Homo sapiens: one gene and its partners. The protein of the gene in region 3 interacts with the protein of the main gene of each other region in a pairwise test. Each region holds a gene or a part of one and is shown on either strand. Other genes may lie near its edges. The genes, in order: NR1H3, NR1H2, FOXO3 and ESR2.

Region 1 (7,023 bases), on a different chromosome or scaffold from region 3:
TGAGGCAGGAGAATCACTTGAACACGGGAGGTGGAGGTTGCAGTGTGCCAAGATCATGCCACTGCACTCCAGCCTGAGCAAGTGTGAGACTCTGTTTCAAAAAAAAAAAATCTTCTTGCCTTTACCCAGTGCTGTCTGCTTTTCTGGAGCCCCAAACCACCCCCTTTGCCCCATCCTTCCCTCCTGTCTTTCCCCCACCCCCTTGCCCCATCCTTTCCCCATCTGCTCCCTTCCTCATATTTGGCCCTGTCCTTAGGTGTCCTGTCAGAAGAACAGATCCGCCTGAAGAAACTGAAGCGGCAAGAGGAGGAACAGGCTCATGCCACATCCTTGCCCCCCAGGGCTTCCTCACCCCCCCAAATCCTGCCCCAGCTCAGCCCGGAACAACTGGGCATGATCGAGAAGCTCGTCGCTGCCCAGCAACAGTGTAACCGGCGCTCCTTTTCTGACCGGCTTCGAGTCACGGTACTTGACACACCTGGGGAGAGGCGGCTGCGCCCAGATCACCAGTGGGCTTCTTGATGTCCGACTCAAAGCGCTTTGCCTTTTCCCTCCTGGGTAGCCTTGGCCCATGGCACCAGATCCCCATAGCCGGGAGGCCCGTCAGCAGCGCTTTGCCCACTTCACTGAGCTGGCCATCGTCTCTGTGCAGGAGATAGTTGACTTTGCTAAACAGCTACCCGGCTTCCTGCAGCTCAGCCGGGAGGACCAGATTGCCCTGCTGAAGACCTCTGCGATCGAGGTGGCTGGAGAAGGGCAAGGGATGAAGGGAGAAGCAGAGTGGGATTATCTGTGGGAGGGGCCTCCAGACATCGAGCTGGGAGAGCCAAATCTGCTGGGAAGCAGGGATGAGGAGAATCGGCCTCCCTGGAAGAGGCCATGCTCCAAGACCAGCCCTCCTAGTCCCCGTTTGAGGTTTGCTGCTTGTGTGCAGGTGATGCTTCTGGAGACATCTCGGAGGTACAACCCTGGGAGTGAGAGTATCACCTTCCTCAAGGATTTCAGTTATAACCGGGAAGACTTTGCCAAAGCAGGTGAGAACTGAGATCACACAGGGATTGGGGTTGGGTGGACAGATGCTTCTTTTTTTATTTTTTATTTTTAAAAATTGAGGGCCAGGCGCGGTGGCTCATGCCTGTAATCCCAGCACTTTGGGAGGCCGAGGTGGGCAGATCACCAGGTCAGTAGATCAAGACCATTCTGGCTAACACGGTGAAACCCTGTCTCTACTGAAAATACAAAAAATTAGTCAGGCATGGTGGCACGCGCCTGTAGCCCCAGCTACTTGGGAGATCGAGGCAGGAGAATCACTTGAATCTGGGAGGCAGAGGTTGTAGTGAGCCAAGATCGCACCACTGCACTCCAGCCTGGGCAACAACAACAACAACAACAAAAATTGAGATAGAGTCTTACTATGTTGCCCAGGTTGGTCCCAAACTCCTGGCCTCAAGTGATCCTCCTGCCTCTGACTCCCAAAGTGCTGGGATTACAGGCGTGAGCCACCCACCATGCCCGGCCAAGTACTTTTTTTTTGTTTCATTTTTTTTTTTAGACAGAGTTTGCTCTGTCACCCAAGCAGGAGTGCAGTGGCGTGATCTTGGCTCACTACAACCTCCGCCTCCCGGGTTCAAGCAATTCTCCTGCTTCAGCTTCTCAAGTAGCTGGGATTAGGTGCACCACCATGCCCAGCTAATTTTTGTACTTTTAGTAGAGACAGGGTTTTACCATGTTGACCAGGCTGGTCTTGAACTCCTGACCTTAAGTGATCCATGTGCCTCAGCCTCCCAAAATGCTGGGATTACAGGCATGAGCCACTGAACCTGGCCAGGACTGGTGCTTTTTGTCAGAGGCCCATAGTGACTACAGAGCCACAGGCCCAATGTTTGGGTGGCTGGTAAGGGAAGGCTCCCTTGTTTTTTGAAGATAGAAAATTGGAATGCTGATAGGCTTCTCTCAGCTGCTCCAGATAGACCCCTGTCCTCTGTTGCTTTAGGTCAGTGGTTTTCAAACTGTATTCCAAGGAACCTGAGAGATATATGGAATGGCACCTTGGAGGAGAAACAGGGAGGCACAGGAATGTCCTTCATCTTTACTTTAGCCAAACAAGAAGCTCCATTTAAATCTGCATTATATATTGCACTGCTACATAGTATTTTGCTTGCAGATTTTACAGCTTGAAAAAAAAGTTTGAAACTCAGTGCACTCAACTTTTTAGTAGTCAAAAAGTGAACAAATCTTCCTCACATGTGCTCTTTGGGGATCATGGGGGCTGATTTCCCCTACTTTTTTTTTTTTTTTGAGATAAGTTCTTGCTCTGTCACGCAGGCTGAAGTGCAGTGGCATGAACGTGGCTCACTGCAGCCTCAACCACCTGGGCTCCAGTAATCCTCCTGCCTCAGCCCCCAAGTAGGTGGGACTACAGGCATGCACCACCATGCCAGGCTAATTTTTATATTTTTTTGTAGAGAGTGGGTTTCGCCATGTTGCCCAGGCTGGTCTCAAAATGGTCTCGAACTCCTGAGCTCAAGTGATCCACCCACCTCGGCCTCCCAATGTGCTGGGATTACAGGCATGAGCCACCACACACAGCCTCCCCTACTCTTTTTCTTTTTTTTTCTTTTCTTTTTTTTTTTTTTTGAGATGGATTCTCACTCTGTTGCCAGGCTGGAGTGCAGTGACGCGATCTTGGCTCACTGCAACTTCTGCCTCCCGGATTCAAACGATTCCCCTGCCTCAGCCTCCTGAGTAGCTGGGACTACAGGCGCGCGCCACTACGCTCAGCTAACTTTTGTATTTTTAGTAGAGATGGGGTTTCACTGTTTTGCCCAGGCTGGTCTTGAACTCCTGAGCTCAGGCAATCCGCCCGCCTTGGCCTCCCAAAGTCCTGGGATTACAGCCATGAGCCACTTGTCCAGGCCCCTCCCCTACTCTTTTTCAATTGCACTTTCTGACGAACCAGAACCATGGCATGGCAAACATGCCCAGAGAGGATGTACAATAAGAGCGAATGCTTCCATCTCCATCCTATATCTGAAGTATTTTCTCCAAAAATTAGTTCATTCTGCGGCTCTCTATCTGATGCTCGCTTGGGAGCTACGCAGAAGGGGTTTCTTCATATTCAACTATTGATAATGTTTGTATCATGAGAACTGGCCTGGGAAAGGACGGGAGGCTGAGGGAGTTTTGGAGGGACTGGAATTGAGCTTCAGCAGGAAACCAAGTAGCTTAACGACTGGATGAGTGGGGCTGTAAAATATGGCTGATGCCCTGACTCCACTCTCAGGGCTGGTAGATCTGTGGCCAGGCCAGTCATCAAGCCTTCCTTGGTTTCTGATAACTCAGGCCAGCTCACGTGCCTCTTGCTCTCCCAACGCAGTCCACCCAGTGAGCTTTCTAGGAAGGCCACTCTTCGCTGTAGGGCATAACAGGGCTATGTTGGCACCTTTTGCCTTCTATAGTAACCGGTGTGCTGCCTGGATGTATTGACACCTAATGGGGTGATTTAATGACTTTATCCAGCTTTAAAGCCCAGCCCTGCTCCCCTCTTCCAAACCACTTTTTCCTCGATGGTTATTATCTCAGACCTTCTTAACCGTGGCTCTCCCCTCCTTCAGAATATCCTCCTTGTGGAACCCTGCCCAGTTCTAAGATCTTTGTATTCCTTTGGCACTTGTAGACTCATGCTATCTGAATCTGCACCTATTCATAGATTTATTTATACAAGCAGTTTTGAAGTAATCATGCTTGCATTTCTTATTTCATGAGTGAGGTCTTGGGGAGAAGGAACAGGAGCTCTGCTTGTCAAGTCTCCTCCCCTCCCTATCCGCTACTATTTACTGCATGCAGTAGATAACTGGTGACATGGACTGAGCACATTTGAGGTGTTCATTCCGTGGGCATCAGCAGACCCTCAGAGGTGCATTAGCTAACTATAGAACCTCCTCTTAATTTCTCTATAAAGGGGGCTGTTTGCCACACTTTGGGGCTCAAAACCTCACCAAGAAATGCTTTAGAAAATGGGGCTTGCCGCCGGGCGTGGTGGCTTACACCTGAAATCCCAGCACTTTGGGAGGCCGAGGCAGGCGGATCACCTGAGGTCAGGAGTTCGAGACCAGCCTGGCCCATATGGCAAAACCCCATCTCTACTGAAAATACAAAAATTAGCTGGGCGTGGTGGTGCACACCTGTGGTCCCAGCTACTCAGGAGGCTGAGGCAGGAGAATTGCTTGAACCAGAAGGCTGAGGTTGCAGTGAGCTGAGATCGCGCCACTGCACTCCAGCCTGGGTGACAGAGCAAGACTCCATCTCAAAAAAAGAAAAAAGAAAAAGAAAATGGGGCCTGCCCATTAAATGGACCAACACACAACACTTGATAAACATCAGGGTGAAAGTACAGGAAGTGACTCACCAAGAAGCCTTGAATGGAAAAGTGTAGCAGATGGTTGCTAAAAGAAATCTGACAAAGCCTGGGGAACTCTGTAGGGTGCAGAGACTTTGACAATGTGTATGAGAGACATTCTCTAGGTATCATTACTTTAGCTCATGTTTTGTTGCATTTTAGTCTTCTCAGCAGGAAGACTGTTTCCAAGAAAAATGTATTATTTATTGACCAGGCGCGGTGGCTCATGCCTGTAATCCCAGTACTTTGGGAGGCCGAGGCAGGCAGATCACGAGGTCAAGAGATCGAGACCATCCTGGCCAACATGGTGAAATCCTGTCTCTACTAAAAATACAAAAATTAGCTGGGCGTGGTGACATGCACCAGTAGTCCCAGCTACTCAAGAGGCTGAGGCAGGAGAATTGCTTGAACCTGGGAGGCAGAGCTTGCAGTGAGCCGAGATCATGCAACTGCACTCTAGTCTGGCAACAGAGCAAGACTCTTTGTCTCAAAAAAAATTTTTTTATTTATTTTACAAACACTTATGTGGTAGTTACCATATATGCCACATATTTATGAGATAGGTACTATTATTATTCCCATTTTACAGATGGGAAAACCAAAGCCCAGAGAGGTTAAATAACTTACACAAGGTCACACTGCCTTGTAAGTGGTAGAGGCAGGACTCAACCCGAGGCAGTCTGGCACCAAAATCCACATCCTCACCCATACTGCAATATTCCCTCGAGGATGTGATACATGAAATGTATCTCTAGTGTTCAAATAAGTAAGGCCAATGCCAGTGAAAAACAAGTCTTTTTTTTTTCTTTGAAACAGGGTCTCGCTCTGTCGCCCAGGCTGAATGCAGTGGTGTGATCAATCATGGCTCAATGCAGCCTCGACCTTCTGGGCTCAAGTGATCCTCCTTGAGTAGCTGGGACTACAGGTGTGAACCACCGTGCCCTGCTGAAAAAGGATTTTTTTTTTTTTTGAGCCAGAATCTTGCTCTGTCGCCCAGGCTGGAGTGCAAGTAGAACAATCTCGGCTCACTGCAACCTCCACCTCCCAGGTTCAAGCAATTCGCCTGCTCAGCCTCCCGAGTAGCTGGGACTACAGGTGCGCCACCATGCCCAGTTAATTTTTGTATTTTTAGTAGAGACCGGGTTTCACTGTGTTGCCCAGGCTGGTCTCAAACTCTTGAGCTCAGGCAATCCGTCTGCCTCGGCCTCCTAAAGTGCTGGGATTATAGGGATAAGCCACCGCATCCAGCCTTTTTTCTTTTTCTTTTTTTTTTTTTGAGATGGAGTTTCGCTCTGTCATCCAGGCTGGAGTGCAGTGGCGTGATCTCGGCTTACTGCAACCTCCGCCTCCCAGATTCAAGCAATTCTCCTGCCTCAGCCTCCTAAGTAGCTGGAATTACAGGAGTGCACCACCACGCCCAGCTAATTTTTGTATTTTCAGTGAGACAGGGTTTTGCCATGTCGGCCAGGCTGGTCTCAAACTCCTGAACTCAGGTGATCCCCCTGCCTCGGCCTCCCAAAATACTGGGATTACAGGCATGAACCGCCGTGCCTTGCTGAAAAACGATTCTTGATAAACAAAAATAAGAGTTGCCTCTATTTCTAGAAATGTGGAGCCCTCAAGAATTTTAATGACAGAATTGGCAGGTGATGGTGTCTGGTGCCTGTAATCCCAGCACTTTGGGAGGGCGAGGCGGGTGGATTGCTTGAGTCCAGGAGTTCGAGACCAGCCTGGGCAACATGGTGAAATCCTGTCACAACTGAAAATATAAGAATTAGCTACTTGTGATGGTATGCACCTGTAGTCCCAGCTACTAGGGAGGCTGAAGTAGGAGGATGGCTTGCACCCGGGAGGTCGAGGCTGCAGTGAGCTGTGATTGTGCCACTGCACTCCAGTCTGGGTGATAGAACAAGACCCTGTCTCAAAGAAAAAAAACAAGAATACCAGAATTATTATTTAATTCAGCACCTCTTGTGTGCCAGACACAGCGCTAAGTGCCCTGCATACTTTGTCATTGAACTATACCAACAATTTTCTGAGAAGGGTTCAGATATGATTCCCATTTCACAGATGAGGCTTATAGAGGGGTTAAGACATTTGCTCAAGGTTACACAGCAAAGCCTTGTAGACCTTTTTTTTTTTTTTGACGGAATCTCGCTCTATCGCCCAGGCTGGAGTGCAGTAGTGCAATCTTGGGTCACTGCAACCTCTGCCTCCCGTGTTCAAGCAATTCTCCTGCCTCAGCCTCCCAAGTAGCTGGGATTACAGGCACCTGCCACCACGCCCGGCTAGTTTTTGTGTTTTTAGTACAGACGGGGTTTCGCCATGTTGGCCAGGCTCTTCTCGAACTCCTGACTTCAGGTGATCCGCCCGCCTCAGCCTCCGAAAGTGCTGGGATTACAGGCGTGAGCCACTGTGCCCGGCCTCAGTAAACTTCTTAGTGAGTTCCTAATAGTTCCCTAAGGTGAGGAGAGAAGAAAGTTCCTGCTGCTCCTGCTGCTTGCGTCAGCCTCCCTTCTTCCTCCCCAGGGCTGCAAGTGGAATTCATCAACCCCATCTTCGAGTTCTCCAGGGCCATGAATGAGCTGCAACTCAATGATGCCGAGTTTGCCTTGCTCATTGCT
Region 2 (7,619 bases), on a different chromosome or scaffold from region 3:
GGAATAGAGCCTGGCATACAGCACGTGCTCAATACTTATATGTTATCCCTACTTTGATTCAAATGCTAACTCCTCTGAAAAGCCTTTTTGGCAACTTTTCTCTGCAATAGCGCCTCTAGCCTGATCCTCAATTTTCTCAGCCTCAGACCCTTTTTCCTTTCTCTCCTTGGCTCATAGAAGACTCTATTCGCCGTGGAATGTCATCCTACAACGGCAAGCACTGGTCTTCCTTAACTCTGCTCCCAGCATCTGTCCTGGAGCTATCTCTGGGGTTCCTTGTGGGCAGATGGACCATTACCTCGATAGTGGATGCCTTCAGGAGGGCGATCTGGTCCTCCCGGCCCAGCTGCAGGAAACCAGGCACTTGCTTAGCGAAGTCCACGATCTCCTGGACTGAGATGATGGCCAGCTCCGTGAAGTGGGCAAAGCGTTGCTGGCGGGCATCTCGGGACTGGGGGTCTGCGCCCAGGGGCCAGGGCTGGGACACAGGAGACCAGGGTCACTCCCAGGTCTTTGTGAGCCTAAGTCTGGGTGGCCACCTTGAGGCCAAGCCTGCACCCTGGGGGATCCTCTTCCCAAAGCCCCTGCCCTCTGGAGCCTCATTCTCCCACACCCTGGGTGATGGCCCAGCTGGCTCTACCCCATTGGGACCGTCACACTCAAGGTTGTGGAGGGGGCAGTACCGTGACTTTGGGCTGGTCGGAGAAGGAGCGTTTGTTGCACTGCAGTTGGGCCGCCACCAACTGCTGGATCATTAGTTCTTGAGCCGCTGTTAGCTGGACACCCTCGCCTTCCCCGGAGCCCTGGCTGCCTGCCTCAGATCCACCAGGGGAAGCCCCAGGCCCAGAGGCTGAGCTGCTGCTGCCCTGCGGCCCCACAGGTGACTGCGACTGTGACTGTGACTCCTGCTGCTGTTTCCGAATCTTCTTCTTCCGGATCTGTTCTTCAGAAAGGACGCCTGTAGGGGGATGCAGGCCTCAGCAGAACCCCAGGGCTAGGCGGGGGGCCAGGCCGGCACCGCCCCCTCCCGCTGCACTCACACTGCTCCCTCATCCCTGCCTCCTTGCACTTGCGCAGCCGGCACTGCTGGCACTTGCGCCGCATGAAAGCGTCCATCTGGCAGGTTCCGCCACCCCGGCAGGCATAGCGCCTGGCCCCACCACGGACCACACTGCGCCGGAAGAAGCCCTTGCAGCCTTCGCAGCTGAGCACGTTGTAGTGGAAGCCGGAGGCCTTGTCCCCACAGACACGGCAAAGCTCGTGGCCCAGCATCTTCGGGGCTGGGCCCTTCTTTCGCTTGCGCTCTGGTTCCTCTTCGGGATCTGGGATGACTGGGGTGGGTAGGTAGAGGCCATGAGAAAGCCACAAGGAGAAACAGGAACCAGAGAGATGGGCCCACAGGAGATCCCCAGGCAAAGAGCCAGAGGATGGAGGGAGAGAGGAGTTGCTGCTCACATTCAGGGAAATTGCAATTTAGAAAGATGTATATGTTAAGGAGAAAGCAAGAACAAAAAGCAAAGATCAGGGCCTCCCATTCCCATTTCTATTTCTTTCTCCCTTCCTAAACCCCTCCCCAAGCCCCCACATCAACTCCAGGGCCCTGTCTCACCCCAGTCTGTGCTGCAGGCTGAGCTGGCCTCATCAGTGCCTGGGACATCAGGGTCCGGACCCCCGGGCCACGGCTCCGGACCCTCCTCCTTTACAGTGGGTGAAGAAGAAGGGGCGCCAGGCTGAGGGGGGCCATTTCCTGGAAGAGGGTGGAATCCGGGAGAGGTACAGTGAGCTTCTGCTCGTGTGTGATAAGGGCTGGGTGGGGAAGAGAGTCACTCACCAGGCAGGGGGGTATCCAGGGAACTCGTGGTAGGAGAGGACATGGTGGGGTCACGGAGCAGCCTGTAGAATACAGGGGATTGAGAGCCTTGTGGGGCTAAGAAGGGTTAGGTTAGGTCAGTTACAGGTCCTGACAGGGCTTTCCCTTTTTTTTCCATCTCTCCAAAGACCCTACTCTCAGCCACAACCCTGGTTCCTGCCAGCCTACAAACCCTCCCCATCCTTCTAACAAGACCTGCCCCCTTCTGTTCCACGCCAGCCTTCAGCTTGGTCTTAAGCCCCGCCCCTGCTGTAGGCCCCGCCCCCTCAGGTCCAATCCACCTGCTTTTTCTAGGTAGGGCCCATTCTCCTTTAATCATGCTCTGCCTTCACGGCCTCCATGCCATGTAGTTTCCCCCCACCTCCTCTTCTTAAGACTCTACCTCACTTCTGCCCCAAGCATCCCTATTTCTCATTCTGACCCCACCTCCTCCTACTATGCTCCGCCCTCAACCTTCCAGGTTCAGCCCCTAAAGCCCCCATCATGGGCCTCCCAACACCTTGCCCCGCCCCATATGCATCCCTCCCTCCAAGCCTCACCCCCACAACCTCGCTCCAGGTCCCCATCCCCTCCCATCATGCCCCGCCCCCGCCCCGCCTCCTCCCTTCCTACTGCACCCCCACAACCTCGCTCCAGGCCCCGCCACATCTCCTCCCATCATGCCCCGCCCCCAGCCCCGCCTCCTCCCTTCATGCCCCGCCCCCGCACCGCGCTGCAGGTCCCGCCCCATCACCTCCCATCATGCCCCGCCCCGCCTCCTCCATTCATGCTCCGCCCTCGCACCTCTCTCCAGGTCCCGCCCCTCTCCAAGCAACAGCGGGGGGCGGGGCTCATGGCTGCGCGCGGGGGTCTCGTGGACGGCCTCTCGCGGAGTGAACTACTCCTGTTGCCCTGGAAACAGCCGCGGGAGGCGCGAATTACCGAGGGGAGGAAATGGAAGGAGAGAAGGGGGCAGAGCGGAGTACGCGGGGAGCGCCGAGAAGCCCCGGGTTCGGGGCTCCTCCTGCGTCTCCCCACTCTCGGGTGCACCTACCTGGGTTCCCTTGCTCTGCTTTTCTTCGTCCTCCTCTTTAGCCCCTGACACACCGCCGCTACTCAAATACCCTCAAAAGTAACTTCGCCACTTCTTCCGGCAACCCCGCCCTTGCGTCACGTCCGGAAGAGGGGCGGAGCGTGAAACTTGACGAACTTCCGGTCCGCTTAGGACCAGCCGAAGCTGCTGCCCCGCACGGAAGTTGGAAACTCACCGGAAGTTTACCGGGTAGATCTACTGGGACTTGGCAGAAGAGTTCCGAACCCATTTCCTCGCTTCTTGGGAGCCAAACCTCCAGCCCCGCGCTTTGTGGCTTTAGCTCATTCATGCGCTTCTCTGAGCCTGCGGCCAAACCCTAGCTATAGCTGCTTGTCGCACATGACTGATTTAAGGCACGTTTGCACTTTTTTGGTCGTTACAAGTTTTCTGATTTTGGAGTCGTGCTGCTTGTTAGTTTTATTTATTTTTATTTATTTATTTGGAGAGGTCTCACTCTGTCACCCCAGACTGGAGTGCAGTGGTGTGATCTCAGCTCACTCCAGCCTCTGCGTCCTGGGTTCAAGAGATTCTCTTGCCTCACCCTCCCAAGTAACTGGGATTACAGGCATGTGCCACCACGCCCGGCTCATTTTTTTGTATTTTTAGTAGAGACAGGGTTTCGCCATGTTGGCGAGGCTGGTCTCGAACTCCTGACTTCAAATGATCCGCCTGCCTCGGCCTCCCAAAGTGCTGGGATTACAGGCGTGAGCTGCGGCACCGGGCTTATTTTTACTTTTTTTTTTTTGAGATGGAGTCTCACTCTGTTGCCCAGGCTGGAGTGCAGTGCCGCGATCTCAGCTAACTGCAACTTCCGCCTCCTGGGTTCAAGCGATTCTCCTGCCTCAGCCTCCCTTGTAGCTGGGATTACAGGTGCCCACCACCACGGCCGGCTAATTTTTCTATTTTTAGTAGAGATGGGGTTTCACCATGTTTGCCAGGCTGGTATCGAACTCCTGACCTCAGGCAATCCACCTACCTCGGCCTTCCAGAGTGTTGGGATTACAGGCGTGAGCCGCTGTGCCTGGCCAGATTTGAGATGTCAGAATTTTCTCATTGTTAAAATTTTGCAAAAATGGTTTCAATAACTTGGTGATTGGAAGAATTAAAAAAGCTCAGTCTCGGACCGGGCGCGGTGGCTCACGCCTGTAATCCCAGCACTTTGGGAGGCCGAGGTGGGCAGATCACCTGAGGTCGGGAGTTTGAGATCAGCCTGACCAACATGGAGAAACTCCGTCTCTACTAAAAATACAAAATTAGCCAGGCATGGTGGCGGGCGCCTGTAATCCCAGCTACTCGGGAGAGGCTGAGGCAGGAGAATCGCTTGAACCCAGGAGGCGGAGGTTGCGGTGAGCCGAGGTTGCGGTGAGCCGAGATTGCGCCATTGCACTCCAGTCTGGGTAACAAGAGCGAAACTCCGTCTCAAAAATAAAATGCAATAAAAATAAAGGAATAAAAGAATGGCTACTCCAGGTAGAGCAGCGGCTTGGGCTGTTCACTGTGATTATACTTATAGTTATTTCTTGATTATATACTAAACAACGGGTGGATTATTCATGAGTTTTCCAGGAAAAGGGTAGGCAATTCTCAGAATTGAGGGTTCCTCCCCCGTTTAGACCATATAGGGGAACTTCCTGACGTTGCCATGGCATTTGTAAGCTGTCATCGTGCTGGTGGGTGTGACTTTTAGCATGCTAATGCGTTATAATTAGTGTATAATGAGCCATGAGGACGGCTAGAGGTCACTCTCATCGCCATCTTGGTTTTGCTGGGATCTGGCTGACTTCTTTACTGCATATGCTGTTTTATCAGCAAGCTCTTTGTGACCCGTATCTTGTGCCAACCTCCTATCCTATCTCATCCTGTGACTAAGAATGCCTTAACCTCCTGGGAACGCAGCCCAGTAGGTCTCAGCCTTATTTTACCAAGCTCCTATTCAAGACAGAATCGCTGTGGTTGGAATGCCTCTGACATATGTGTATGCCTTTATAAAAAAGAAATGGGACTATGTGATCCATGCTCTTCTGTAACTTATTATGTCTACTCAGGCCCATCGTTTGAGATTGTGGAATTTTCCACCTAGGGATGTTAGAAGCGAAACAAGTGATTAACATGAGCGTTGGAAATGGCAGAACCTGGTGTCTCTGTCACTTCCTTCCTGTGTAACACTGAGCCCAGTTCCTTAACCTCCCCGTGCCTCAGTTTCCTTGCCTGTAAATTGCAAACAGGAGTGAGAAAGCCGGGCATGGTGGCTCATGCCTGTAATCCCAGCACTTTGGGAGGCCAAGGCAGGTGGATCACCTGAGATCAGGAGTTCGAGACTAGCCTGACCAACTTGCTGAAACCTGGTCTCTACTAAAAATATAAAATTAGCCGGGCATGGTGGCGGGCACCTGTAATCCCAGCTACTCAGGAGGCTGAGGCAGGAGAATTGAACCCGGGAGACAGAGGTTGTGGTGAGCCAAGATCTTGCCATTGCATTCCACCCTGGGCAGCAGGAGCAAAACTGCATCTCAAAAATAAAAAAATAAAGGCAGGGCACGGTGGCTCACGCCTGTAATCCCAGCACTTTGGGAGGCCAAGGCAGGTGGATCACAAGGTCAGGAGTTCAAGACCAGCCTGACCAACACCATGAAACCCCATCTCTACTAAAAAAAATACAAAAAAAATAGCCAGGCGTGGTGGTACGTGCCTGTAATCCCAGCTACTTGGGAGGCTGAGACAGAAGAATCACTTGAACCCAGGAGGCGGAGGTTGCAGTGAGCCGAGAACGCGCCACTGCACTCCAGCCTGGCAACAGAGTAAGACTCCGTCTCAAAATAAATAAATAAATAAACAAATAAATAAAAATAAAAAAATTAAAAAGAGTGAGACAGGAGGCTAGGCACAGTGGTTCATGCCAGTAATCCCAGCATTTTGGAAGGCTGAGGCAGGCAGATCACGATGTCAGGAGATGGAGACCATCCTGGCCAACATGGTGAAACCCCATCTCAACTAAAAATACAAAAATTAGCTGGGCGTGGTGGCACGTGCCTGTAATCCCAACTACTTGGGAGGCTGAGGCAGGAGAATCTCTTGAACCAAGGAGTCAGAGGTTGCAGTGAGCCGAGATCGCGCCACTGCACTCCAGCCTACCGACAGACTGAAACTCTATCTCAAAAAAAAAAAAAAAAAAAAAAAGCGAGACAGGAATAACACAGGGTAGTCACAGGAGAATAGAAAATTCCAGGCAGCAGTTTCACATGACTAGCAAAAGGAAACTGTTGAAATAGTTGCAGCAGGTGGGGGCTGATAAGACTCTTGAAAACCCTAGGTGTGGACCAACCTGGCTAAGACACATTGGACCCAACAAGGCCCTACATATGACCTAGGTCTCACCTAGGACCTCGTTATATGCTCATTAACATAAACACACACCCACCAGCACCAGGACGGTTACAGGAACACCCATATTTGGTGTAAAAGTGGGTGGCACCACAGTTCTCAAAAATCTCCTTTTTCTAGGAATCTTCATGAATATTCCACTCCTTGATTAAAGAAATCCATAGTACATACCTGTAGTCCCAGCTACTCAGGAGACTGAGGCAGGAGAATCGCTGGAACCCGTGAGGCGGAGGTTGCAGTGAGCCAAGATCGTGCCACTGCACTCCAGCCTGGGGACAGAGCAAGACTGTCTCAAAACAAAAAGAGAGAAACCCATTAAGGTAGCAGCCCCAAACCCCCCCTGCAGGAGACTCTCTCTGGAGTCCACCTGTACTCCTCTTTGTTGAGTGTGTACTTTTCACTTTGCAATACATCTTTGTACTTTCAGTATTTTCCCACTTGTCCTCAAGTTCCTTCCCGAGATGGTGTCAAGAGCCTGGACATTGGCTGGGGTGGAGGTCCCACACCAGCATATGGGGACTTCCCCTAGCCCACCGGGATCAAGAGTATGACCTTGTTGCCTTACTCTTATGACTAAATGAGGTAAAAGCATAAACAGGGTGGGTTTCAAATGAGGTGCCTGATATGGTGGAACTGTATTTATATTTATTTATTTATTTATTTATTTTTTTAAGATAAGATCTCACTCTGTCGCCCAGGCTGGAGTGCAGTGGTGCCATCTTGGCTTATTGCAGCCCTGACCTCCTGGGCTCAGGTGATCCTCCCACCTCAGCCTCCAGAGTATGTGGGACCGCAGGCATGAGCCACCACACCCAGCTAAGTTTTTACATTTTTGTTAGAGATGGGGTTTCGCCACGTTGCCTAGGCTGTTCTTGAACTCATGGACTCAGGCGATCTGCCCACCTTGGCCTCCCAAGGTGCCGGGATTACAGGCATGAGCCTCTCATCCAGCCTGTATTGATTCTTGTGGCTGTTAAAGTAGTTCTAAGTTTCCACTGTTAGAAAAGTGCAAGAGTCCTGAAATAGGCTGAAGAGGAATTACAACACTTTTGGGACGAGTCACATTGCACTCAGTCTCGGTTGACCTACTGGTAAATAGGATAAATCGTTCTTCCTTTTTTCTTTGAGTTTTGCTCTTGTCACCCAGGCTAGAGTGCAGTGGCCCAATCTTGGTTCACTGCAACTTCTGCCTCCCGGGTTCAAGTTATTCTCCTGCCTCAGCCTCCTGAGTAGCTGGGATCACGGGTGCGCACCACCATGCCCGGCTAATTTTTGTGTTTTTAGTAGAGACGGGGT
Region 3 (7,023 bases):
GGTCTTAGAAGACCAGGGTTTCCTTTAAAACACTTGCTTTAAGTTTTTAATCTCCACACCCCCTCTCCTAAATTTTCCTTTTCTAATGATGACAATAAACTTACATGGAAACACTATATATCAGAGTTCTTTAAAAAATAATCAAGGTATTATTTTAGCTGTGTGGAGAAAAAAATACTTGACATCAGCTTAAAGACTTGTGTACTCCCTCTGCTGGCTCTGAATTTAAAGTAAATTCTCAATACCTTCAAGGGCTAACTTAACTAACTTCACTAGACATCTGAAATACAAGGAAGGCTGGTTGCAGGGGCTCATGTTTATAATCCCAGCACTTTAGGAGGCCCAAGTAAGAGGATCGCTTGAACCCAGGAGTTTGAGACCAACCTGGCAACAAAGTGAGACCTCATATCTCTACAAAAAAAACATAAAATTAGCTGGGTGTCGTGGCGCTCATTAGTAGTCCCAGCTACTAGGGCAGCTGAGGCAGGAGGATCATAGCTCTCTACAGAGAGAGCCAGGAGTTTGAAGCTGTGGAGAGCTATGATTGTGCCACCGCACTCCAGCCTAGGTGACAGAGCAAGGCCTTGTCTCAAATAAAAAATTTAAAATAAAAATACACAAGGGAGCCGGGTGCAATGGCTCATGCCTGTAATCCCAGCACTTTGGGAGGCCGAGGCAGGCAGATCATGAGGTCAGCAGATCAAGACCATCCTGGCTAACACAGTGAAGCCCCGTCTCTAATAAAAATACAAAAAATTAGCTGGGAGTGGTGGCGAACGCCTGCAGTCCCAGCTACTTGGGAGGCTGAGGCAGGAGAATGGCATGAACCCAGGAGGCGGAGCTTGCAGTGAGCCAAGATCACGCCACTGCACTCCAGCCTAGGCGACAGAGCGAGATTCTGTCTCAAAAAAAAAAAAAAAAAAAAAAAAAAAAAACCACGCAAGGGAAAACATGATGTGGATTCTTCCACCCCACCCCACCCCCTAATGGTTTTCAAACAAATTCCTAAACACGTACTGAAAACTGCCAAACACATCTCTGTTGGGTTTACTATAGGTTCACTCCAGAAGGAAGGTAATGTATGCTGTTTGTTTATTTGTTTGTTTGGGGGAGAGTTTACTTCCTGCTCCAGCCTTGCCCCCTACACATGTGCCACATGCTTTCCTTACTCTGTGCTCACCTCTCCACTGCAGTCCTAGGGCACATCTGGACACCAAGGTGTGGTGAGCCTCCAGAAGATAACCTGGCCTCCTCACCCCAGGCAATGACCCAGGAGTAGCGGAATTACTAGAAGAACCACAGCCCAGCAGAGAAGTCATCCTCTTCGCTTATTATGTTATTCCATAGTAGTAACTGAGGCACTGCAGAGAAAAAGTCTCAAGATTAAAACCTCAAAAACTCAGGAGTGAAAAGTGGAACAAGCGAATTATAGAAAAGCCTGGCTTGAAACACACTCCAATCAGACATTTCCGTTTTACCAAGAGTGGTACATCACAGTACTCTATGGATGCCAGCTACCGTAGTTCTTTTTCCTTTAGGAGAGACTAAGATACTGGGAAATGAACGTTGTTTGGTCAGGAATAAAATGGTGAAAGATACTGGGTCTGTCTGGGCAATGATGCAGTCAGAACTGGGGTGTTCTATCATCATCACTAGCCTAACCACATATTCAGAACTCTAACTTGGAAGAACTGCAGACTGGTCCTTGAAATAGTTCATCTCAAAGACTGTCTGCTATCTCCTCTCCTTTCATACATGACTTCTATTTCCCAATCCATGGACAGAAAACTTGAAGTACATTTGGGACTTCTGCCCCAAAATGCAGAACATTACAAACAACTAAGGCTTTACATAACAGCTTTGTTCCTAAAAGTGAGTAAAATAAACTTTAGGCAAAACAATTCTATGGTGACTTTCTCGACACTGCATGTTGATGATACAAATAGCGGGTTTACATACAGATGGCAAACTTCATTTCCTTTTTCTCTTAATGCAACAAGGTCATCCCAAGATCAGGCTTCCTTCAGTTTCTGTGGTAAGTAGTGATGGACACTTATGGAGTTTTCAGAGACTTATGCATTGGGTAACAAGGCACTGCAAGAAACCCCAGATAGCACAGCATCATCTCACATTTACACCACATCACATCAACATCGATGCTAGGAGGTCTAAAGCTGATGCCACCTTCAGAGCTGCAAGTATCCAAAAGACTCCACTCATGACACCAGCTCACTCCTGAGTCACATCAGCCCCTTTCAGAGTCACAGCCCCAGAACTAAGGCTATCCATATGGGTTGATTATAAAATCCAAAAAGCAGCTCCAAATATTAGAAACACTTATTTGTCTGGCAGACACATTCCCTAATTTAAAGCCTCTTATACTGTGCTTAAAAATATTCAACAGTCTTAGCAAAATGACAAAATAAACAGGTAGCAGCCATGGGGTGGGCAGGGTAAGGTGGCGTTGAAAGAAAAGGCATTTAGCAAGGTAAGTAGAGAGTGCTGATGGAGAACACAAAAGGAGAAACACAGCGACTCCAGTGCGAGCTAGCCTAGAAGAGGGGAGGAGAAGCAGAAGACAGCAAGTGAAGAGCTTGAAGAACTTGAGGCAAACAGCACTGAGATGAACAGCTGTGAAACCACAATGGTAGGCAGTAGACACTACAGTACAGTGGTATGAACACACGCTTTAAAAAAAAAAAAAAAAGAGAGAGAGAGGGTCTCACTCTGTCATCCAGGCTGGAGTGCAGTGGTGCAGTCGTGCTCACTGCAGTCTCAAACTCCTGGGATTAAGGGATCCTCCTGCCTCAGCCTCTCAAGCAGCTGGGACTACAGGCATGCACCACCACAACAGAGCTAATTTTTTTTTTTTTTGAGATGGAGTTTCGCTCTTGTTACCCAGGCTGGAGTGCAACGGCACAATCTTGGCTCACTGCAACCTCCGCCTCCCAGGTTCAAGCAATTCTCCTGCCTCAGCCTCCCTAGTAGCTGGGATTACAGGCATGCGCCACGATGCCCGGCTAGCTTTTTGTACTTTTAGTAGAGACAGGGTTTCACCATGTTGGTAAGGCTGGTCTCGAACTCCTGACCTCAGGTGATCCACCCACCTGGGCCTCCCAAAGTGCTGGGATTACAGGCATGAGCCACCGCACCTGGCCTAGTTTTCTTTTTTTCTGGTAGAGACGAGGTCTCACTTTGTTGCCCAGGCTGGTCTCAAACTCCTGGCCTCAGGCAATCCTCCTGCCTTGGCCTCCCAAAGTGTTAAAATTATAGGCATGAACCACTGCACTGACTGGACACACCCGTTACTCCACCCCTACTAGCTGTGGAACCCTGAACCCAGTCACTCACATAGTCCTAGCATGTTTCTCACCTGCAAAATAAGGTAGTTAGATGATCTTTAAGATCTCTTTTAGTTCTGAGTTTTAGGCAACAAGTAATACAGATGAGTCAGTGGCATCAAGGCTCCACATCCACTCCAGAGGAAGGCCAGATCTACATCAGGCCCTGGGAGACAGAACTGGGGATCCCAGATCAGTCCAGGGCCAAAGATGTGCTCTATCTAATCCAGGTGGAGCTTGGAAAACCAAAGCTTCTCCCAAACAGACCCAATCCACAGGAGCCATGGTACGGTGGTTTTGCATCTCCAAAGCAAGCTCAAAATGATCTGCAGAGAGTTAAAGGCTAGCTCCAAGCCATGCCCCACATCAAATTTGCCACTTCCCAGCAACTTCTTAGCAGAGTTGAAGTACTAGAGAAAGCAGAAATACAGATGTAAAAAAAAGGCAACGGGAATAGGCAGCAATGACAAATTCACAAAGCACAGATATGCTATAGCTTATTTTCTGTCTCCTCCATCAGAATATGAACTCCTGTGAGTGAACTGGAACTTTATCTGCCTTCTGCTACCACTATATCCCTAAGTCCTGGCAAATGCTCTGCAAGCAGCATGCCTTTGATAAACATTTGTTGAATACATGAAATGGGATGTGATGCAAATGGGTAAAAAGGGTTTTCTCTTTCCAATCTTTCATTCACTTACTGTATACCAGCTGTAACATCCACTGATATCAACTCGTCTTTGCATTTATGATCCCCAGCTCCTTTTATAGCACCAAAAAGGTAAAGTGGCTCTTCAGGACCCCTCAATTTGTGATGCAGGAAAAGGAGAGAAATGAGGAGTTGAGAATAGGGTCAAGTCTGTCCCTATAGGCAAAATAAGTGGGTATACAAACAAAATAAATTCCATATTCTCTCCAGCCCTGGGAATCTGGAATCTGATGCACCTGCTCTGGGTAAGTGGGGCAACCTGCCAGAATGCACAGGCCTAAACAGTCTTTAAAAAAAAAATAAGATGGGGTTTTGCTATGTGCCCAAGCTGGTCTTGAACTCCTGGGCTCAAGCCTAAACAGCCTTATCTTTGCATTTTCATGAAGATCTTTGAATGGATGGTAAACTTTTGCCAGACCAAATTAAATGACTTATTAGTGAGACAAGGCCTCTTCATTAATTTTCCAAATAAAAGTATCTTGCAGGTTTTAAGTAAGAATCACAAGCAGAGTACTAAGAAGTTTAACTAAAAGATGTTCTTGTATGGTGTCATTTTCTTAAAATAGAACACTCCTAAAATCTCCTAAAAATAAGTCTGCTGTAGTTTCATTTCATTTTCTAAGAAGGAGATAAACATATCAAAACACACACTTAGCTTCTTTTTTAAAGAGTCTCTGTTACATGGGACTCACAGATCAAAGTCTAAAAGGGCCAATTTCTTCACTTCAGAGGTCAATGACACAGCTTTGAAAAAGAGGAAAAACAGTCCCTCTAGTGTACTGGGGCTGTAGAAAGAGGAAGTATATTAGTTGAGAATCACTGACGAAGACACTATTGCCAAAGGAAATTACAAAACGACATTTTGGCAACACGGGCCAAGCAGACAGATTCTTCACACACGACCATAACTGGCCTTTTGGTGAGTTACTCCAAAAGGTGACTGAGGTCAAAATTATGAGCCAATGTGGAATGATTATGACTTAGTCATTTTCAAATTAAAAAAAAATTTAAAACAGAGTTGCAGTTAAAATAACATTTTCCTAATACAGTGTGTTGAAAAGGAACTGGATGTATTAATCTAAAGAACAGAAACAGTGAGGACACAAATAAGCATTATGTGACAGGACAGCCCTCATCTTTTTATCTTGGCAAGAAGCCATAACAATACACATTCTTACATGAAAGAAGACTCGGACTCTTGAAGAATTATCTTCTGCAGCAGCAGCAGCAGCAGAAATCTTAACACAGTATCCCCCACACTTGTGAAATTATGGGAACCACTACAGAAACTCAAGTCTGCCTAATTTGATTACACCCTGACCCATGGGAAAAGCAGATGTGTGCTGTGTATAACGAAATAAGTGATAGATAGGCCTTACCAGGTAAGCCCTGGCGTCCTTAGAGGTCTCCCCAAGACAAGAGGAACTGAGAGAACTCACTTGTTCAATCATGGGTGCAGTGCAAGCTTAATCTGAATTAAAGGAAATGTAACCTTTTCCCCTCTTAACCACATCTGATTGTTCATTTCTACTTTAATGCCCGAGGTAAGGGAACCTGTGAGATAGTCATCATCCTTCTCCCTGACACAGTATCTGACAAATGTAAGTAACCAAGGGCTTCCTCTTTTTGTTAAAATGCTATCCTTCTTACCTCTTTTATCACTTCATAGTTCCTAAGTACCCCTACTGACAGGCACTGGACAGCTATGCAAACATGATACACTCACTCAGCCTCCATCTACATTTGCCCATCCTTTTGATGCTGAAATAATAAGCAAGATGTTTTTAGATTGAGAGGCAAATAAGCCTTTCAGGAAAGCAAGCGCTACTTATGTGAGACTATCCATTACCTAGCAAATGACCTTTTAAAAAAGATCAATTTAAAGAAGAAAATGGAAAACAAAAACCTCTAGAACTGTGGCTACTAATTACCTCTCTACTAACTAGCTGTGTGATCTTAAGAAAGTCATTAGCTTTTCCAAAAATCAGGTTTTTCACCAGTAAAATAAGAGGGTTGAACTAGATCAGAAAACTTCATCCTAACTATACATTAGAATCACCTAAGAAACTTGAAAAAAAAAAACAAAACACAAAACCATCAATGCTAAGCCACACACAAGCCAAATTATATCAAATTCTCTGGGTATTTGTATTTTTCAGAAGTTCCCAGGTAATTCAAACATGCAACCAGGGCTGAGAACCACTGATTTAGATTCTGATCTCTAAGTCCTCTTTTCTAATTCTTTCATTTTATGATGTTAGGGTGATAATTTTGGTTACAAGGTCTCATAATGCAATGGCCCAAATAGCCTGAAAAGAAGTAAGGCCCTGCATACCGTGCCCTTTATGCACACATGACTAGGAGACGTTAACCTGAATTCTAGACATTTTTGGAAGTTAAAAATCCTCTTACATTACTCAGAATGAAAGTAGTGTGGTTTAAATGCACATGCGTGCTTCCAAAATGACTAATCATGACAAGAATCAACTCCTAAACTTGGACACTTGGAAATGGGTCACAATTAGCTCCTGATCTCTCCCTTTTCCCTCTTCTTCCACTAAACCACAAGCACACACAAAAAAAGGTTGCCTATTAGTCATAATCAAAATATAAAACCAGCTCCAGTTTCAAAGGGCCTTCTCCATCATCAAAGATTTGAAAGTTCCTGCATGGCTGCATCTTTTGATGAAGATCATCTTATAAAAACTCTAACAAAATTATATCCCTTTAGTCGTCAAGGATTAGTTGTCATGTGACACTCAGAAATGGAATTGGTAAAAAATTTTAAGGTAAAAGAATCATAAAATGTGTGCCCTGTATTAAGCATATTAAGCCTTGAGAATTTCAATTTACAGTATTTTCTAAGATTTTAGTTGAAGAGAAATGAGATAGCAGAGAAGGGTAAAAAAAAAAAACCATAAGACAAAAAAACGATGACATAAAACCATAAAGTTTATGACTAGTCCCAAAATC
Region 4 (7,196 bases), on a different chromosome or scaffold from region 3:
CCTTCATTTTCAAGACCTGTCATAATTCCAGCTAGGAAGGCCAACTATCCAGTTTGCTAGCTCCTCATAAACTTGCCACTCTGCATATCCTAGTTACTACCACTGTAACTGGGTATGCAAGGTAAGTTACATATTTAAAATACAGGCTGTTTTTCATAGAACAAAGGAAAAAGGAAAAAGACATCAATTTTATATATATATATGTTAGCAGTACCTACCAATAACAGGCTCCTAACTGTATACTGAATTGAATACTGTGTTAAACAGTGAAAAATATTAGTTTACAAAAGGTTATACATCTCCACCCTGCAGGAAAATCTAGACTTCAAGACATGAGCACAGAAATTTAAAAATCCTGACATCTACAAATAAGTTGGACACAGACCTAAGCCCCTATGAAGATAAATATTTTACCTTCAGCAATTGTAATCACTCTGCATTTTAAATGTCTTCAATTTGTCATTTTCAATCCCTGTTTTGCTTCTCACTATTTGATAATATGCAATTTCAGGTAGCTTTCTTAATCTCAGGTATAATGAAAAGTAGTTTTTTTTTTAATAAAGAAGTTTTAAAATTCAAAGATTATAAAAGAATGATGCATTCTATTAATATGATATAAATAACTTTTAATGGCCTTGTATTTCAATTCAGGATAACTAATGATATATGCCATAACCAAAGGCTTAAACCACAATAGAATCTAAATCTGCTAAGAACTAAATCTATTAGCCCTATATGAATTTAACACTTAGTCCAAGTCTCAAGTTTCCCATTTGCAAATAGCATTGTCTTTGCCTTGATTTATCCCAAGGTACTAGAATTAAAAATAGCACAAACTGACTCATCCTATAAAAAGGGAAAAACAGGTTTTTCTTTCAAAAGAAGTAAAGGAAAATATGTCTAAGTAAAAACGTACTAAAGAGCAAAACCACATAATCATTATGTAGTTTTGATCAGTGATTTTCAGGGGCAGTGGGGTAGGTAGAGGTACAAAGGGGACTTTTGGGGTAATGGAACTGTTCTGTGTCATGTGTGCGGTGCTGGTTACATGACTGTGCATCTGTCAGAATTCATAGAGGTACATTTACAGAGGCTAAATTTTACTGTATGTAAATTATACTGCTGTAGCCTAATTTTTTTAAAGTGCTATTGCATATAAAACAATGTGCTAGACACTGAATTATGAAATCTAACGTTCAAGCATACAATTCTCAAGGTTTCTAGATGTATTATCAAAAACTTATCATTAAACACTTTGAGTTCAGCCTTCAGTATTTTATATTTTATCCATATTTATATTCTATAAAACGACTCAAAGCATCACCTAAAATTATCACATGAATTTTGAATTATTATGTGTTCAACATACACTTATAGAAAATTTCCTTCTTATTCTTAAAAGTGAACATATCAATATCTATTAAATGTTAATTATATGGTTATGAGTTGAATTTACTACTAAATTCTACCTTTTCTGAATTATAAATACATTAAGAAATGTAAACTGTGATTAGATTTATTCACATCCCTCAGAACACTACGAAATGTGTCCTAAACATGTTAATTGATTTCAGAAACTTCTATGTCTTGAGCAAGACTTAAGTGTTAACAAGCATCTGATGGCTTTTAAAATAAGAATGTTTCAGAAATTCATCTAAAAAAATGCTTGAACGTAAAATGCAATCCTACGGTGTATACTCTAATGCCTGTTGATGAACAGATCCTTATAGTTTCCTTCTTCTAGAACTCATATCAAAATACATTTTCTTCAGAAAAAATAGGAGTCAAAGATGTTAATCATGTTCTTTTCATAGTCACGTTACATTTGTTTTACAACACTCTCAGAAAAGCCTTTCCTTTCACATGTTCACTTTTTAAATTACAAACATGTTTCCCCTCACTAGACACCGAGTTACGAAACTTAGAGCAAAAGTAAAACTTTCTAATGGAATGCCCATGTAAATACTAGAAATATAACAAAATAAGGCAAAGTCTGTCCTCCAAAATGTTGCCTACCACACCAAAACACAATCCTGCTTTTTAAACAGCGAGTAAAATTAAATCAACCTTATCTTCCTAAATAGAAGTCCACTCAAAGTTTTTTCACAAAAATGACATTCACTTGACTTAATATTGTCCTTCCAATAAGAATAACACGCAGGGTGTTAGAGGGCAGTTGTTGGACTCCTCTTCAGCAAATAAAGGAGACCAGTTAGAGCTTAGCTTGGTCTGCCCAGGAAAGGAGGAACGCAGCTTGCTGACATGGCTAAGGAATGCCAATTAATACATTTTAAAACCCCTATCATCTTGCCTGAGACGTGTACATCTTCCCAGGCCCTCAAAGTTCAATCAGAAAGTGTATTCAACTCCATTGTCATTTCACCCATAGTGGGGAAGTCCATCGAGGAAAACCATAGGGAAATAAAATGTTTTTCAGTTATTCATATTAGCACAATCAACCCAGAGCTCACGGCACAAACTAAATAAGTTAACTTGCCAGTGTCTTGAATGAAGACATTTAATCAAAGCATGCATTTTCCAACTTTCCAGTAGCTTTCAGGACAGTTGGTTTTGGTGATCGTTTTTTGGTCTTTTATTGTTCTCAACACGACTGGTTTCTCACCGCAGGATTTCAAACAAAATGAGACAATTAAACCACACCTCGAGCGAAGGGGCGCTTACCTTGCAGATAAACACACCGGCCTTGCCTTCTCTAAAATGCGGACACGTGCTTTTCCCGCATTAGGGGGGGTCTCCCGGCGCGCGCCCCGCCGCCACCTGTTGAGGAAAGCGAGCGCACCTCCTGCAGCTCAGGCTCCGGGCGCCAGCCCTGCCCCGCAGCCCCAGAGCCCGTCGCAGCTCGGGTGGTCCCTCCCCGGCCCAGCGCTCGCCGCCTGCTCTTCGCCCTGCAAGTTTCAAGAGGCAGTTATTTCTCGCAGCCTCCGCGCTTGCAACTGCCTCCTGGCGGGGGAGTGGGTGTCCAAAAAGCCAGCAGCTGGAGAAACTGAAAAGATCACAAGCGACTTAACGATAAGCCCCTTCTTCCTTTTAAAGACCGAGAGGAGGGTAGAGGGGAGTAGTGCCTGAGCCCACGTGACCGAGCCAGGGAGCCCGACGGTCTCAGGAACGCCCGACGCCGCGCGTGACCTCTAAGTGGGAGCACCCTCGAACCGACTCCTGGTCCACCCACAAGGATAGTGGCGCACAGATGGCGCTCCCCGCAGCCCCAGTCTCAGATTTAAGAGGTCTGGAGTAGGGCCTGAGAATATGCATTTCCAACCAGGTCCTGGGGGATGCCGACACTGATACAGCCAGTCTGGGGACCACACTTCGAGGATCACGTCCTCAGCCCCTGACTCACATAAGTGTCATTCAGAACAGATGTCTGATTCTAAGGAGCCAGTGGTGAAACCAGAGAGGCTTTGGGTTTGTCAAATCCCCAGCAGCAAACGTAACCTCGGGCCCTGGAGTGGCAAAGCCGTGGACTAGAGGTGGAGGGAGTGGGTTCTCAGCTCTCAAGAGGTCACTGGGAAGGCCTTTCGCGTTAGATCAAAGATCCCAGGTACTTCCTCGAACTCACTTGAAGTGGCACCGGGGAGACCTGTGCCTCCGGCCACGGCGCCCTTCTCCGCTGGAGGCACCTGCCCACCCCTCTTCTCGGGCGAAGGCCCCTCGCGCCCCCTGGTGGCAGCCCCAGTTCCCCCAGCTTAATGGGGTGTTCCCCTCACCCACCCCAGCAGGAGCCCCAGGGTGCGAGACTAGGACCACAGTCTTAACTGGCTTTAAGGCAGCTGTTGCTGATGAAAATGAAAAGGAAAGTAGCATGTGACCCACAGGCCATTGTGAGAACCCCCCAGTGTCACATCTGTGCCTAATTAATCATCAAACCATCTACTCAGGTGGCATAAGGGACATGGTTTTTGAGGGTTGTGATCCAGATCTCTAATAGAGGAAGACGAGGGGGGGCATTTGGAGGGAAAGTTTTACAGTACCAGCCTCAGCTGTTTGGTGTTTAGCCAAAATAGAGAGACGCAAGTGTGCTCTGGGTTGATAAAGATGAGGTCCACAGGTAATGAAGACAGGCTCCAAAGATGGAGAAGCATCTGCTTCATCAGCTAAACAATAGCTGTGAAAAGTCTCCACTGCCCCACCCTAAGTCCAATTTTCATTAAAGCTGAGAGTCCTGGTTTCTCTCAGGTTGAAAGGCAGAGTCTCCCTGTCCTTGAGGCAGAGAAGTTAGTTTGGACGGGAAGAGTGTGTCGCTGGCAAATAACTGCAGCAGACAACATGCCAATCTCAGCCTCCCTGTCTCCTGTCCTGGGGTCTCTCAAAGTACCCAGTCCCCATATGCTCTTCCTCCTTGCCACCTTATGGAGAAAATGTTAAATGATGGTTTAAAAAAATCAGCTTCATGGCCAGGCATGGTGGCTCACACCTATAATCTCAGCACTTTGGGAGGCCGAGGCAGGTGGATCACGAGGTCAGGAGTTTGAGACCAGCCTGACCAACATGGTGAAACCTCGTCTCTACTAAAAATACAAAAATTGGCTGGACGTGGTGGCACATGCCAGTAATCCCAGCTACTCAGGAGGCTGAGGCAGGAGAATCGCTTGAACATGGGAGGCGGAGGTTGCAGTGAGCCAAGATCGCGCCACTGCATTCCAGCCTGGGCGACAGAGCGAGACTCTGTCTCAAAAAAAAAAAAAAAAAAAAAAATCAGCTTCATTTGGTGGTATATACTTGTTAACAAGATATCTCTGGAAATGGAAACCGTCATGAAGGAATTTCAACCATAAGCCAACAGGCAGAAAAAGATAGGTGAGGGTGAAGAAAATGCATCTATCAATATTAACATCATACCTGACGCTGTGCTAAGCACCTGCACAGCATCTCATTTAATCCTCACACCAGCTCAGTGAGATATTGACTCCACTTTTCCAGTGAGGAAATTGAGGCTCACAGAGCTTCTGTCAGCTACCTGAAGCCACCTAGTGAGAAAGGAACCCAGTAACAACAGTGGCTTCATAGACAGCTACCGCTTATTGGACATTTATGCCCCGCTTTCTCTCAATAATTCTTATTTTATACGCAAGCCTATAAGGCAAATTCTATTACCCCCATTTTATACTTGAGAAAATGAATGTTCAGGAAGGTTAAACAACCTCCCTATGGTCACATGACCTATCAGTGGCTAAGAAGGACTTGAATCCAGGAGAGAGGCCAAGGACCCATTTACCTCCATACCATGCCTCCAATCAATCAGAATGAAAATGGCTTGACTCTCTGCTCTATGCAGAACACTGCAGACAAACTTCTGCCACCTGTGTGCCAAGCTTCTGCTCTGTGTTCACTGTGATGCTTCCTTCAGAAGGCATTCTACACACAGGAACAGCATGTTCTCTTTTCAGAGCAGCTCAAACACCCACAGAAGCTGTTTATTATACAAGGAAACCTCACTGCAGGAAATAATAAGCAGAAAATGAATGGGAGTGAGTAAGTTTCCTTCTGACTCACCCTGTCCATCAAGAAAGACAATGGTACCCAGAGATGGAAACTTTGCCTGGTTTAATGCAGAGTGGAGAGGATGATTATTCCAATTCTACCTGAATTGTGACCACAATGATGAAGGGATTATTCTTGAGGCAGTTCATACCAATGGCTAGACCAAAAAGCCCCCTGAAGCCTGGTATTGAGAACGATGCCTGCTATATAAGTGAGCAGGGTCCCAGCCTCATTTCCACCTCACCCCTGACCTGCCTAAGGAAGCACCCACATATGACATTGAAAGGACTGCCTGTCTCCAAAATATCCTACAATGGGGATTGAAATTGTCACCATTAAGTCATCTTTTGGGGATAAAGCATTGAATTGTTAAAATTAAGTCATGTTATATATGATGGGTAATATTAACTTACTAGCATTTATGATTAACAAGATGAGCTTGCAGCATGAGCTAGATGTCACCTGGGAAAGCAAAGGAAGTCAATGTAGTACAGGTATGGTTTGCTGTGAAGAGGAAGGAAAGCCTCTCCATAAAAGGTGCACCTTCCTCATCTTCTCACCCCACCCCTTCTCTGTCTAGCAAAGTCTTACACATCCCAAAGCCAAGAGCCTAAATAAGGTGAAGAGCACATTAGCCCAGTGGAACGTGCACATTGGCTCCCCCACAGCCCTCATCTTACCTGTCAACACAACCTGCGCTGCGATTGGACAGCGCATGTCTTACATCTCTAGCATTCTCCATGGTCCATAACACCCACCTAGCACAATCCACGCGTTCAACAAATGTTTGCTGAAGCCTTTGACTTGGAAAGATCAGAGGGAGAATTTTCCGTAGGAAAGAAACTACCAAGAGGCAAAACAAAACCCTGTAAAAGGCAAGAAAGCAAAAGCTAATAGGAAAAGTGGAGGGAAAGGAGGAATGCTACAGATGTCTAGAAGGGTGTCATGCCAAAGGGTGCCTTTGGATTGTTGCTTTATTCTCTGAGCTTGAAGCCAAGTAGGAGGATTTGGGTTCTGGGATAGTTATCTGCTCCAGAGTGTTATAGGAACAAGCTTATTTATATTATGTGGGTATAAATTGGTCTGTTTTAAGAGAATCTGAGAGATAAAACCCTACACTTATGGAATTAATAAAGGGGAAAGATTAATTGAACGTGCAATAACACCTTTTTTTGGTGGTGATGAATGAAAAAGATAGGATTACTAATTAATATGTCAGAGATCATCTCAACTGAACATAAAGTTCACAAAATGTGATTTGACATTTGAAACTTGAATTTGGATAGAGCTCTTTAGGATCACATCTTTTGTAGAAATAAAAACAAACCTAATATTTATTGAGCATTTTTCTAGCCTGGACACCACAGTAGGCAGGCTTGCATAGGTTGATTCACTTTTATTTCATTTAATCCTTGAAAATTCCCTGGGACTGTCTATTTTACAGATGGGAAAACTGAGGCTCAGAGAGCTAACATTTATTTTATAAAGTCACCCATGTGCATTTGGTAGGGTGAAAGTTTCCACCCAACTTTACCTACCTACCTGCACATCCCATGTTTTCTCCACTGTCATGAGATGCTGTTCTTATTTGTTGCATAAATGGAGGCATGTCTGTCCTGTAGAGCCCAGATACTGTTGAATGAAATGTTGTCAATTTCTTGTCTAGGAATGACCACCTATGAGCATATTTATGT

What was found.
Region 1: the proteins of FOXO3 (region 3) and NR1H3 interact in a two-hybrid assay, tested with the Homo sapiens proteins (one study listed by BioGRID).
Region 2: the proteins of FOXO3 (region 3) and NR1H2 interact in a two-hybrid assay, tested with the Homo sapiens proteins (one study listed by BioGRID).
Region 4: the proteins of FOXO3 (region 3) and ESR2 interact in binary tests that used the Homo sapiens proteins (3 or more experiments, as listed by UniProt).

The regions. Positions count from the first base shown.
Region 1 is NC_000011.10:47,260,985-47,268,007, forward strand, and holds part of NR1H3 (oxysterols receptor LXR-alpha), read left to right. Parts: intron 1-256; coding exon 257-465; intron 466-562; coding exon 563-742; intron 743-934; coding exon 935-1,034; intron 1,035-6,928; coding exon 6,929-7,023. UniProt on the Homo sapiens protein: Nuclear receptor that exhibits a ligand-dependent transcriptional activation activity.
Region 2 is NC_000019.10:50,371,861-50,379,479, reverse strand, and holds the start of NR1H2 (oxysterols receptor LXR-beta), read right to left. Parts: upstream 3,024-7,619; 5' UTR 2,904-3,023; intron 2,762-2,903; 5' UTR 2,654-2,761; intron 1,894-2,653; 5' UTR 1,875-1,893; coding exon 1,832-1,874; intron 1,748-1,831; coding exon 1,610-1,747; intron 1,332-1,609; coding exon 1,041-1,331; intron 959-1,040; coding exon 684-958; intron 479-683; coding exon 299-478; intron 1-298. UniProt on the Homo sapiens protein: Nuclear receptor that exhibits a ligand-dependent transcriptional activation activity. Binds preferentially to double-stranded oligonucleotide direct repeats having the consensus half-site sequence 5'-AGGTCA-3' and 4-nt spacing (DR-4).
Region 3 is NC_000006.12:108,563,900-108,570,922, reverse strand, and holds part of FOXO3 (forkhead box protein O3), read right to left. Parts: intron 3,752-7,023; exon of another isoform or gene 3,374-3,751; intron 2,691-3,373; exon of another isoform or gene 1,181-2,690; intron 1-1,180. UniProt on the Homo sapiens protein: Transcriptional activator that recognizes and binds to the DNA sequence 5'-[AG]TAAA[TC]A-3' and regulates different processes, such as apoptosis and autophagy.
Region 4 is NC_000014.9:64,291,351-64,298,546, forward strand, and holds the start of ESR2 (estrogen receptor beta), read right to left. Parts: upstream 3,022-7,196; 5' UTR 2,683-3,021; intron 1-2,682.